Linked DNA regions of Homo sapiens. The protein of the gene in region 1 purifies or fractionates together with the protein of each later gene. This does not show direct contact. Each region holds a gene or a part of one and is shown on either strand. Other genes may lie near its edges.

The links. Proteins that work in one complex are often made in the same cells at the same time.
Region 2: the proteins of TRIM59 (region 1) and ABHD5 purify together in Homo sapiens (affinity purification with mass spectrometry; 3 studies listed by BioGRID and IntAct, with this or other methods). This does not show direct contact.

What each region holds. Positions count from the first base shown.
Region 1 is NC_000003.12:160,435,003-160,439,786, forward strand, and holds the end of TRIM59 (tripartite motif-containing protein 59), read right to left. Parts: intron 4,185-4,784; 5' UTR 4,182-4,184; coding exon 2,970-4,181; 3' UTR 501-2,969; downstream 1-500. UniProt on the Homo sapiens protein: E3 ubiquitin ligase involved in different processes such as development and immune response. Serves as a negative regulator for innate immune signaling pathways by suppressing RLR-induced activation of IRF3/7 and NF-kappa-B via interaction with adapter ECSIT.
Region 2 is NC_000003.12:43,693,280-43,701,894, reverse strand, and holds part of ABHD5 (1-acylglycerol-3-phosphate O-acyltransferase ABHD5), read right to left. Parts: intron 2,620-8,615; coding exon 2,534-2,619; intron 1-2,533. UniProt on the Homo sapiens protein: Coenzyme A-dependent lysophosphatidic acid acyltransferase that catalyzes the transfer of an acyl group on a lysophosphatidic acid.

The DNA.
Region 1 (4,784 bases):
GGAAAAGTAAGTTTAAAGTGCTATAATGATAATCAAGTGTTTTCATTTGGTGCGAAAATAGAATTTAATACTTTTATTATATTTTAATAACCAATGCAGTAGAGCTCAGATTTTTTTTTTTTTTTTGAAAGTCTCACTGCATCACCCAGGGTGGAGTGCTGTGGCAAGATCTTGGCTCACTGCAACCCTGCCTCACGGGTTCAAGCGATTCAAGTGCCTCAGCCACATGAGTAGCTGGGACTACAGGTGCACACCACAGTGCCCAGCTAATTTTTGTGTTTTTGGTAGACAGGGTTTTGCCATGTTGGCCAAGCTGGTCTCAAACTCCTGGCCTCAAGTGATCTGCCTGCCTCAGCCTCCCAAAGTGCTGGACTATAGGCATGAGCCACTGCACCCAGCCTGCAGTACTAAGTTTCAAAGAATTAGAAGTACCCAGAACCCATGTGAAAATCCCATAGCTACCACTCCTGAGTATGGAAGTCTCATTAAGACAGTGCAAATAAAATATCAAAAGAAGTTTATTAAAATACATATTTTGTTATACATAAAACTTAGAAATATTTCAAGATTTACATACATCAACTTTTGCAATCTTCCTGCTGGTAAAAATACAAAACAGCAGCATAAGAACCAGTTACTCATATACTCAACTATATTCATGCATACTTAACAAAATGAAAAGTTCTCCTAAAAACTGGCAAGATACAAAATGTCAAATCTAAAATGATATATATACTTACGTTTTTAGCATTCTTACAGATTACAAACCCTTACCAACATTAATCTTGGCCTACTTTAAAGTTGAGTGATAGCATGAACTCTGAAAAGAGAATGCATGGGTTTTCTCACAGCTATATGGCCTTGGACAAGTCACTTGTCAGTTCCCTCATCTACAAAAAGGGGGTTAAAAATATTCACATCACAGAAATGAGATTAAGTAGTTTAACACATAATGGCTAACATTTCATTGCTTACGTGTTTTTGAAACTACAGGGCACTTTTATGGTGTGACTAGTATTTTAAGTAATCAGTGCAACTTAGTATTTTTATCTCTAGCTGAGTATGTGTCTCTCCTTACCTCTACTATGCCCTTTAAATGTTCTTTGCCCACACAATAGTTAATTGTGCTAGGTATAAGTCTGATTCTAATAATAAATTGATATAATACAGTCATCTTAGTGTTAAGACTTATTCTCAGCAGGTAAGAGTTTTAGAACTAGTTCCCTGAAAAAGCTGTATTTATGATAGTTTATGTGCAATCTGTAGGGCCAGGAGCATAGTCTAATCTGACCCAGAATGTCTTTTTGATTTGATATAGGTAAGGCTCTTCGGTGATCCAAGAGCAGCCCCTTTGGGATTTCTGGAAAGCAAATCAACCTGCACTTAGAGTTGCATGGACAGTGGGCCAAAAGTCGTAACACATGCATCATAACTCCAGTCCCTGTTAAAGGGAACTAAAGGGCTTTGATTTAATTGGCCCTCTTAAGCAAAGCTAATAAAAGATTAAGTTGTTGGGCCGGGCGTGGCGGCTCACGCCTATAATCCCAGCATTTTGGGAGGCTGAGGCGAGTGGATCATGAGGTCAGGAGATAGAGACCATCCTGGCTAACACAGTGAAACCCCATCTCTACTAAAAATACAGAAAATTAGCTGGGCGTGGTAGCAGATGCCTGTAGTCCCAGCTACTCGGGAGGCTGAGGCAGGAGAATGGTGTGAACCCGGGAGGCGGGGCTTGCAATGAGCCGAGATCACGCCACTGCACTCCAGCCTGGGCGACAGAGCAAGACTCCGTCTCAAAAAAAAAAAAAAAAAAAAAAAAAAAAGATTAAGTTGTTGGTACTTTTGCATTAGCTTAAGGGAATGTGGTAGAAAATTTAAATGAGTTAAGATGAATAAAGTCCACATGATGCCATCAAAACCTGTTGCAGACCAAGTTACCAACATGATTCTGTTCTAATAAGAATGAGTTTTTAATCCAAGAACTGATTTGACTGACGAGCAGAAAAAAAAACAATCTTAAATTTGCACAAACTATAGAATATGACAAGTATTAGAAAATGCTGGCCCCCAGGCACAGTGTGGCTAACGTCTGTAATCCCAGCACTTTGGGAGGCCAAGGTGGGCAGATCTCTTGAGCCCAGAAGTTTGAGACCAACCTGGGCAATATGGCAAAACCTCGTTTCTACAAAAAACAATTTTTTTAATTAGCCAGGCATGGGGGTGTGTGCCTTGTCCCAGCTGCTCCAGAGGCAGAGGCGGGAGGATCGATTGAGCCTGGGTGGTCGAAACTGCAGTGAGTCATGACCAGACAACTACACTCCAGCCTGGGCAACAAGGTGAGACCCAGTCTCAAAAATTTCTTTTAAAAAGCCACTTTACTCTAACAGTTATCCAAAAGCAATAGTTTTATTTGGAGTGAATGGTGATAAGCATTTAGGGCTCTTAAATCTATCTCAAACACAGGTATGTTTGATCAAAAGATCTTTAAGCCATGCCTTATCACTTTAAGACTTTGTTGCTTGATTTTGAAACCTTTCTATCATCCTTATTCACCCATTCAAAAGCTTCAAGCCACATCAAAATAAAGGTATATGTTCTTTCAGGATTTTGCTATATATATAAAGAACTGTAAAGCCAATTAACTGCAGTATATAATAATGGTAAAAGACAATATTGGTACAAGAATGTTTAAATGTCACAGCAACATTATGTCAACCATCATAAAGCCAATAAAAATGGGATAGTGTATTACTTTTCAAATTGTTACTAGATTCTGTTTCCCAAAGATTTGACTATTTCAGATATAACTTTGACATATCATTGCTAACCAAAAGAAGCAACAAATATAAACATTTGTTTATATTAGTTGCAGCACTAATAAAGCTTAGTTTGCTCTTTATCCATGCTACCCCATTTTTTGTTTAGCAATGTACAGAATAAGCCCATTTAAACAATTCAGGTTGACATTTTCAATGGGAAACTATTTTCCACACAAATTCCTTCAACAAATAGAAAATGTGACACAGTATATTCTTTACCTTATGCAGACTGTTAGATAAACTTTGGTAAACAGATAGAGAGGCTTCAGAAAACCATATTAAAGTGATTTCACTTAAAAAGGTTATGATGTGTTGGTTGAAAAAGAGTATCGACATCAGTATTACTGAAATTAATGTAACTACAACAATGTTTAAAATTTTTAAAAATTCAACTTCCTTTTCATCCTTACCAGGCCAGGAACATGACATCCTTTTTGGAGAAATTTTCATTTTGGGAATGAGAACGTTCTTAATTTGTCCAATTTCTGTTCTGCTCCATTCTTCTTTCAATATTTTGCTTACTCGAGGATAAATTTCAACGGGTTGAACCTCAGGAAGTGGTCTTTGTTTCAAGATCTGTACATGCTGGCGTACATCATCAACTTTTTCAAGAAATTTAAGTGGAGACTCTTCTTGTAAAGATATTGTCAGTGCCATTAATTCAAGCTGCTGCTCTCGTATTTCCTTCATTCTTTCAATTTGTGGAGTATATTCTTGATTAATTAGATTGCCAACATCACAGAGAGCCGTTAGGAAACTTTTTTTTTTCTGTTCTAATGTATCATTAAGCTCCTTAAAATACTGGAGAACAGCTTCCTTATCGCCTTGGATCATTTTCTCAGAATGAGATTTTTGTTCTTTCAGCTTTTCAATAAGATGGGTAAGATCTGTCCAGTGTGTGTCAGTCAACTGTTCAAGCAGTTTTTGAGGAGTGTCCTTTTCTTTCAAATAGGCACTTTGAAGGTCATCTATAGGATGACCATGATGTTGACCTATGGTAAGGCAATGACCACAAACTAATTTTTTATCTAATAGACAGTAAACATTTAATGGTTGCCTGTAATGTTCAGGGCAGGTGACAATATCTGGATGGTCTTCTTGCTGGTACTTTTCAATAATAGCCCTTAGTGCAAAATTAACAGGTAAAGATTCAATGCCAGTTGGAGCAATTTCAGTAATACTTCTGCAATTAGGGCACTTGAGTGGAATTCGTAAAGGTCTCCATATATAAAAGTTACCAGATGCCTGAAGAATGTTTTCCAAACAATTTCTACAAAATGTATGAGAGCATGGCAGTACACGAGGATCTTCAAAAATACTATAACATATGGGACAAGTTAACTCTTCCTCAAAATTGTGCATTTCCTGTCAAGAGAAAAATGTATTTTAAGTTTACATAGAGACACCTGTACATATTATTTAACATTCTAGGCATTAACCTCCAAATTGTTACCATACTGCTTGTCATTTAAAAGAGAACAAGGTATTTTTAAAATGAAGTTTTCTGAGTAATTCATTTCCTAGTATATATAGTGAATAACTGATCACAATTAAGAGTTTATTCCTTAGGGACCAAAATCATCCCAAACAAAGCAATTATCATTAATTTGTAGTAAAATGCTTCAAATTTAAGTTATTTAAATTTGTTGCTATGTGATATGGTTTGGCTGTGTCTCCACCCAAATCTCATCTTGAATTGTAGCTCCCATAATTCCCACATGTTGTGGGAGGGACTCAGCGGTAGATAACTTTAGTCATGGGGGCAGTTCCCCCATACTGTTCTTGTAGTATCACGAGATCTGATGGTTTTGTAAGAGGAAACCCCTTTTGCTTCACTCATTCTCTTTTCTTGTCTGCCGCCATGTGAGACGTGCCTTTCACCTTCTGCCATGATTGTGAGGTCTCCCCAGCCATGTGGAACTGTGAGTCCATTAAACCTCTTTTTCCTTATAAATTACCCAGTCT
Region 2 (8,615 bases), about 120 Mb from region 1:
CTTAGTGGTTACCGAACCCATTATTTTAAGGTCTCTAGCTTTGCAGAGAATTTGTAGAATACTGTCAGGTGTTCTACAATTTCAAGGTGGTATTCTTTGGTTAACTTTGAGTTGAAGTCAGGCTTAAAGGCATCATTTTTCCTTAAAAAGTAGTCATGAATTTAGGGAAGGATTACTGGTATCTATGTTAAACATGTAAGTGAAACCTTAAGTCATTTCAAAAAAAGGTTGACAAAGTATTGTAGGAACTCCTCAGCATGACACACCAGGTAACTTGGGTCCAACTCTAGTAATCTCCTAGAAAAAGCAAATAGTCACAATTTTATAGACCAAAACTCTTTTTTACCTTTAATGTTGTGGAACTAAATACTTTAAACACTCCCAAAAATTGCCTAAAAATGAAATTAAATTTGAAATCATTTATATTTAACTATCAACTGAACAGCTGCATTTTTGATATACCCCTTAATTATTTATGCATATTCATATACAGTAAACAAGACACTGAAGAAACAGGAGTTTCTGCCTTTTAACCAAAGAAATAATATCATGTTTTGTATCCACATAGTGGCAGCAAAGAAGAAACCTAACATTCATTCAGAATATTAATGGAGCACAAGCCCTCAAGTTGGGGGAAATACCACTAGTTTAGAAAAGGGGCTGCTTTGGCTTAAGTGCCAAGCCAAACCACTTCAGCATTTTGAACACATACGTCTGTGTATTCCCATAAAAACCATCTGTATAACTATTAGAGAACTCACTCCACCGTAGCTTACTTTCATGTCTGACACTAAAGCAGAGACCAATTCACATTCCTATTTGCATCCCTAGAACCAAAAGGAAGGGAATCATTATGTCTGTTAAATGCATGAATTGAGAATCTAGCACCCCTTTTTTACCTCCTGATAAGAATTTTTTTATTTTGGTAAATCACAATGACATCTTTCTTAGTTTTGTAGAGAGCAAGTTTACCCAAGTATATGGAATAGAAGTTCATTATCATGTTAAAAATCCATGTAATAACTGGGCGTGGTAGCTCATGCCTGTAATCCCAGCACTTTGGGAGGCCGAGGCAGGTGGATCACCTGAGGTCAGGAGTTCAAGACTAGCCTGGTCAACATGGCGAAACCCCATCTCTACTAAAAATACAAAAATTAGCTGGGTATGGTGGCAGGTGCCTGTAATCCCAGCTACTTGGGAGGCTGAGGCAGGAGAATTGCTTGAACCCAGGAGGCAGAGGTTGCAGTGAGCTGAGATTGTGCCACTGCACTCCAGCTTGGGTAACAGAGCAAGGCTCCATCTCAAAAAAAAAAAAAAATTCATGAAAGATGGCTAATTATCCCTTCCTAAGGATATATCCAGTTATGGTCACTTACTCCTGAATCATTCAAATGCACAAACAAATTCATTAGTGGTAAAGAGAATGAAAAACAGGCATGTACAAACATCTGCACCTACATACAAAAATAACACATGAATATGAATGGTACTACCTAATCCACTCCTTTAAGTAGAATCAGCAGAACAAAATTGCACAATAAGTACCACTACTTAGAACTACACCCACAGATACCTTGGAATGCCCTGATGGTACAAGTTTGGGTAAATTTTAGTGCTCATAAGAAGGAAAAAAAAGGGGCTTCCACACCACTATAAATATAGAATCCTAGAATGCTAGAACTAGAAGGAATTCTATGGACCCATTCATTTTATAAGAATCCTACCCCTTCATTTTATAAGAAATGAGAAGCTGAGCAAAGTGACTTGTCCAAGATCTTGTAACCACCTAGTGGCAGATCTGGGCCTAGACCAAGTTACCTGGGTCCAGTCTAGTACTTCCACTATACAAGGCTGCTTGCTCTGAAACACCTAGAATCTGTTCTCAAAGCATAGTCTCAAGCAGAGTCAGGGGGGGTGTCCCTGAGACTCTTCGAGGAGATCCAGGAAGTCAAAACTATTTTCATCATAATACTAAGACTTTCTATTTTTCACTCTCATTCTCTAATAGGTATAAAGTAGTCTTCCAGAAGTCACATATGTGATTACCCATCAGACTGAAAGCAGAAGCAGCAACCTTATGTCAAGCTAGACATTAAAGACATTTGTAAACATGTAAACAATGTTTGGAAAGTATTTTTTTTCTTTTTTTGGTACAAATTTTATTTATTTTAATCTGTAATGGGTTTACTATTATTTTTAAAGAAATTAATAAATTAACATTTTTGATTATTCAATTTTAATTTCTAATTGTATTAGAAATGATAAATATTGATAATAAGCCCATAAACAAATCTCCTTGGGGTCCTTACTAATTTAAGAGTATAACAGGGGCCCAAGACCAAAAAGTTTTAGAACTCCTACCTGCCAGCCCCCGACATTCATTTCTGTACTTTCTAATGACAAGGAAAAGGAAAAAAGTTATTTTGCCAACAATGAACACACCACAGAATCTTACCTCCAGTTTCAGGGCAATGAGATATATTGGACCTATCTTAGTACACAGCTCATTTAACTTACAAGAAGAAAGCCTTACATTTTAACATCTTCTCTTCAGCTTCTTTAAGGTGTGATATAGACGTAGGGCACCATGTGGGGAGCCAACCAGTTAGCCATCCTGACCTAGAGCACCAAAAACAAAATAACAAATAGGTGAGTTCATGCTCTTCTCAACTACCAATTGTCACATGCACAGAAGAAAGGCAGCACAGGAAATTTACTACCTGTGTGATGGTAAAGCTATGTGTGACAAAAGTGACCTAACATGCACAAAGCATGGTGGTAAGTACTGGGATACAGATATTCAACTTCAGCCTGTGTACTTACAAGTAGATCTCAAAGTCCATCTTATTCATGGATAGTCAGATTCCAAATAAGCAAAAAGAGGATAAAATGGGAAGAACAAGAAAACACAAAAAATGCATTCCTCCCCACTGCAAGACAGCCTCTTATTGGGGTAGAAGTGCAAAAAAAGTTAAAGACCAGGAGTAGATTCATTTGAATGACAGTTTCACAGTGAATATAAAAGGTACCTCTATGGGGGTTGAGAAAAGGGGCACCTTATTAAAATCTGAGATCGACCATTTTTTGGGGAAAAAGAAGGCTTCAAATCTCATATGAGTAGTAACATACCCCTAACACAAATGTGGGAGGCTGGTCTGCGTACAATCTCCTTAGGGTGAACTGGTTAACTGTTAATAGAAGTACAAAAAAGCTTTGGGTTTCAGCAAACAGTAGATGAACAGAACGACCAAAGCATCCATCAGAAGACAGCACAACAAAGAACAAGGAAGCAGATCTGAGGCAGCTAGTGAGGAAAGGCATGGGGAGGCTGCAGTTGACATACTTTGCTTGTAGCCAACAAAAGAGAGGGTAAGCCTCAACTCCTGGCCTGGCAGTCACAAACCAAAAGCTTACTGTAATAACCTGACATAATGCAGAGCTTCAGTAGTCATTTGACAGTTAGCAAGGGCTCGGTGCATGGCTGGTATTATTTAAAATGAGAACTTTCTGATGAAAAAGAAATGAATTAGAAGAGGAAAAGTGAACTACTGCAGAGTCCAGATGAGAGGTAAGGGCCCAATCCAAGGCTTTGGCAACAGGGATAGAGACAAGAAGATGTAGTCAAAGAATATTTAAAAGGAAAACAGGTTGGATTTGATAACTGGTTGGAGATAAAGAAGTTATAATAAGGATTCCCAGGCGTCTCTCTTAGGTTACCACTATAATGACAGACAACACAAGAGTAAGAATAGGTGTGAGAGGAAAATGTGCTAAGTTTTGGAAGGGTTGTGTACCAACATCTAGCTTTTCTTACCTTTGTAGGTTCATCCTACTATATTTCCCTTCCCTGTAGAATTTATCTGGATATTACGTATAACAGGTACTCAATCAATAATGTTTGCTGAGTGATTAAGTCACTCACAATCCAGGGGATTCTCAGTCCAAATTATCCCCATTTCATAGATGTAAAAACTGAAGTTCAGAAATGTTAAGCACCAAGTCCAAGGGTATACAGCTAGTAAGTAAGTAAGTTTGATTCTGAGCCACTCCAAAGTGCTTTTTTCTCAAATGACTACCTTCCTTAAAATGTCTGAAGGGTTGCCCATTACCTACAGGATAAGTCTATATTTTCCTGGACCTGCACAGAAGGTACTTTGCAATCCATCCACAGCCTACCTCCATCCCATCTTTTCTTTTCATATATTGTACTTTTTCCAGTACTTCATATCTCTCAAAATTTCATATGATTACATGTCTCTATGGCTTTGCACAGCTCTTATAAATTACCCAGTCTCAGGTAGTTCTTTATAGCAGCATGAGAATGGACTAATACACAGGCCATTAAAATAAAAGAACTCATGATTTTTAGAGGTTAAAGGTGAAGCTCTTTTGTCCTTGACCAGCCATTAGGTCTATATTTAACCATAAAAATATGAACTAGTACCAACAAGAAATTACTTACAACTCAATCTCATCCATTGTCTTAAACAAACATCCCTCGAACCATATCACAATTATTTGCCAGAGAGAATCAGAGGTCAATTAAAAAAAATTACAGTGAAATGAAGTATAAGCTACTATTGCTCCAGTTGATATCACAGACAAACTGGGGCAAAGAAAACACAAATGCATTCTTTGCATTAAAAAAGGATACTTTTTTAAAAAACGACACTCAAAAAATAATTCAGACACTGAATACCTACTATGTACAAAGCACCAGTGTTTAAAAAGTTACATACCAGCCTGTAATGGAAGAATCATGCCTACCTCCACCAACTTACCACTTACCACAAAACCAGCTTTCAAACAATGGGACTGTCTGTCCATGGATTTGCCTTCTAGTGACCAGCTCAACTCAGAGAAGGGGCAAAACATGTTTTCATGTTTGTAAGCTTACATTAAAAAGTAGGGATCTTCAACCATAAGAAGAGGCACCAACTCTCTTCAGGTTTTCACAGAAGCATTTTCATCAAAACAGGTGATTTTTTAAAGTGGGTTTTTTTCTAACAGAAAAATATATATTTAACAAAACATAGCAAGATATTTTTACTCTTAATGGAATTGTAAAGATAGCACTCTTCCCCTAAGCCCTGATAATGCTTCTGTCCAGTTTCACTTTAACCAGATGATTAAATGTTTTACAGAAACTATCCTCTGCTTCTTTGAGACACTCTACAGGATTAAGTGTTATATACATAATAGGCTTCAAGGAACATTTCCAATGAGTAAAAAGCAAGGGCCTTATCTTTTCCACCCTTTAGTTGATTCCTGTTTGTTCAAAGGTCTCATACCTTACCTTGCAACCTCTATTGCTTCAACCCTTTAAAACTTACCCATCCAACTCTACCTCCTGTCTTCGGGATAAATTAATCTCACCTTCAAAGAGACCCTTTGCCCCCTCCCCAGTGGTATCCTATGCCATTCAGTGTTGCTCAGCATTCCTAGGTTTAGTATATAGAAGACTGGAACTAAGGACACAGGACTGAAGCTTGTCAGATATTCTGCCATTCTTCTGAGGTCACAAAATTCAAGGCAAAAATTAAATTCACACAGCCCACCTATAAAACAGTAAACTAGATTCAATGCCTCTTCCTCATAGCTTTGGAAAATAAATAGAAAAGCAAAACCTAACTTCTCTATTTTATTTAAGGAGACAAGCAATAAACACTATCATCCATCACTGAGGCCTAAATTCAACAGTGACCAAAGTGTCAACTGTAATACAAAGAGAAGTCATTCACCACAGGAACTATAGCTTTCTAATAGTAAGCATCTATGACATGGGGAAAGCTTACCAATGCAAGCCAAAAAGTTTTCTACACAGCCCCATCAGTTGGGCACTTACCTTATTAGCAAGGCAAAGGATATAAGCCCTAAAGCATCTAATCACAGAAACAAAAACAAAAAAAGAAAGGATTCTTGTTTTACAACCATTGTAGTGCAAACTAAGAATCTTTTTAGTGAGCAGACTTTTGAGTAAGAAAAGTTATAAAAGATCACATCAGAGGTGACAATTCTAAGGAAAGCCAAGTAAGATGTGCTTAACATATTAATAGAGTATATTTTACCTAAGAATCTGACTTTAAGTATCCTGAGTGAGAGATAGACACCACTTTTTCCATTAACTTTTTACGTAATCCTTCTAAAAAAATATTATGTCATACTTATACTCCATACTATCAACACTTAAGTTTCCTGGTAATCTCTGTTTTGTTCTTTAACACATCTGTCTATCTACAGTATTACTAAACCTGAATTGCACAATCTATAAACATTATGAAACAGTGAAAGAGGTTTCGAAGTATTCTGAAGAAAATATGCAGAAATCTGGCCAGTTTCCATACACTCTTGGCCACTTAATATTTCTAATTAGGTTATAAGTAAAGAGGATTTCATTATATTAAAATTTTGTTTAAAATGGCCTCCATTCCTATTCTAGTAGTTGAGAGAGAAAAATCACATAAACTTATTGCTCTTGATAAACCTAAGCACAGCTCTCTATCTCATTTAAAGAAACCATGAGGCTTTGATTTTTATTATAAATATCCAAATGAATTACAGGTATGAATATATACATTTATTTATATTTACATTTATATTTATCTGAGATACTTCCTCAACCAATGACTAAAAACATCCAAATTGGAAATTATAACACTTGGGTAAATAAAGACCTTTCTTGGGAATTGACTTTTTAAATCCTATTCTTGGGAAAGAGAAAAAGAAAAGAAAAAAGCGTACTTTGGGAGGCTGAGGTGGGAGGATTGCTTGAGCTCAGTCAGGAGGTCAAGACCAGCTGCCTGGCACATGCCTGTAGTCCCAGCCGCCTGGCACATGCCTATAGTCCCAGCAACCTTGGGGGGGTGGAATACAGGGGCTGGGGGGCAAGTTGCTGAGGTGGCAGGATTGCTTGAGCCCAGGAGGTTGAGGCTGCAGTGAGCCATGATTGTGCCACTGCACTCCAGCCTGGGTGACAGAGCAAGAACCTGTCTCTGGAAAACAAACAAAAAAAAAAGAATATGGTCTCATACAGCTACAATTTAAGTGACTAACATGCCATTTTATTTTGGATAAATGATACTTAAGTGATTCAAATTATCACTATTAGATCAATGACAATCCAGGCCCTCTAATATATGTTAACACATTAATTAATACTGTTTTAACTGCCCCTCCCCCCCCAACCTGTAACTTTTAAAGACTCAGATTGGTAGTATAAGTGTTTTAGACAAGCCATGTGCTGGTAACACGTATCTCCCCATTGTTTCCTACCTTCCTTCACACAGTAAACAAACCATTTTAGAGTCACTTATATGACCTCATTATCAAACACACTTGAAGAAGCCACAGGTGTACTCTACTTAACAAGTCAGTGACATTTCTTTGCATCAGTTCTAAAATAAGTTCATTCACTAGATAATAAAGAGAATAAAACTAAAAATCCTAGGTCTCAACTGAATAATCAGTTTTAATAAAATCACCTCTCCATATGATTTTTTTTAGTAACTCACAATCAGGAGTGGGAATTACAGAACCATGAGATTAAACTAATAATCTAACAATTAGTCAAGGCAATGATTAAGCCAATATAATGTTTCAAGAGGAAGAACTGAGCTTTTTTTTTTTTTTTTTTTTTGAGACGGAGTCTTGCTCTGTCGCCCAGGCTGGAGTGCAGTGGCACGATCTCGGCTCACTGCAAGCTCCGCCTCCTGGGTTCACGCCATTCTCCTGCCTCAGCCTCCCGAGTAGCTGGGACTACAGGCGCCGCCACCTTGCCCGGCTAATTTTTTTGTATTTTTAATACAGACGGGGTTTCACGGTGTTACCCCAAAGTGCTAGGATTACAGGCGTGAACCACGGCGCCCGGCCAGAACTAAGCTTTTTATATCGTTTAGTTTAGGAGCAGGAAGGTAAAAATAAGATCATGGTCTGGACATGTTAAATTTGAGGAATCAGGCACAAACATCTGACAATTAGAAACATTACCAGAGTACAGAAGAGGGCTCCAGAAAGAAAATGAGATCTGAGTCATCTCCACAGACAAGACAGTTCACGTTTGAGTAAACAAGATGAAAAATAAAAACAAGGATGATGACAGAATCTTGGAAAATGACTACATTTAGAGAATGCAAAAAAAAAAAAAAGAGGAGAAACTAATAAAAGTTATTGTTGGTCAGGTAAGGTAAGATAAAAGGCAAAATGTCATTAAGACCTAGAATGTCTAATAAGAGTTTCAAAAAGTAGTAGCTATCATTACAGTAACAAACACCAAAAAGGACCCAAGAAGAAGTACTGAAAAAAACTAGAAGGCCATTGGGATGTGGCAGTGAAAAGTTTTGTGATTTTTAAGATATCAGGTGGCAAAGGTTTGGGAAGGAGAGAAGGCAGCAGAGAGAAAGGCACATATCTTGCCAGTTTTTAAAAAGATTAGATAGAGAAATCCACTCTCCTATCTCCAAGGCAAAGACCTACATTCACAGTCTAATGTAAACCCAGTGGGGAGCTGGCAAACAAACTGAAGCAGGGAGGGGAGAGAAAAATCCCTTATTTATACCTTATTTATAGCATTTGATGATTTCCGTGGTGTAAATACTCCCACCATGGCCAATTTCAAG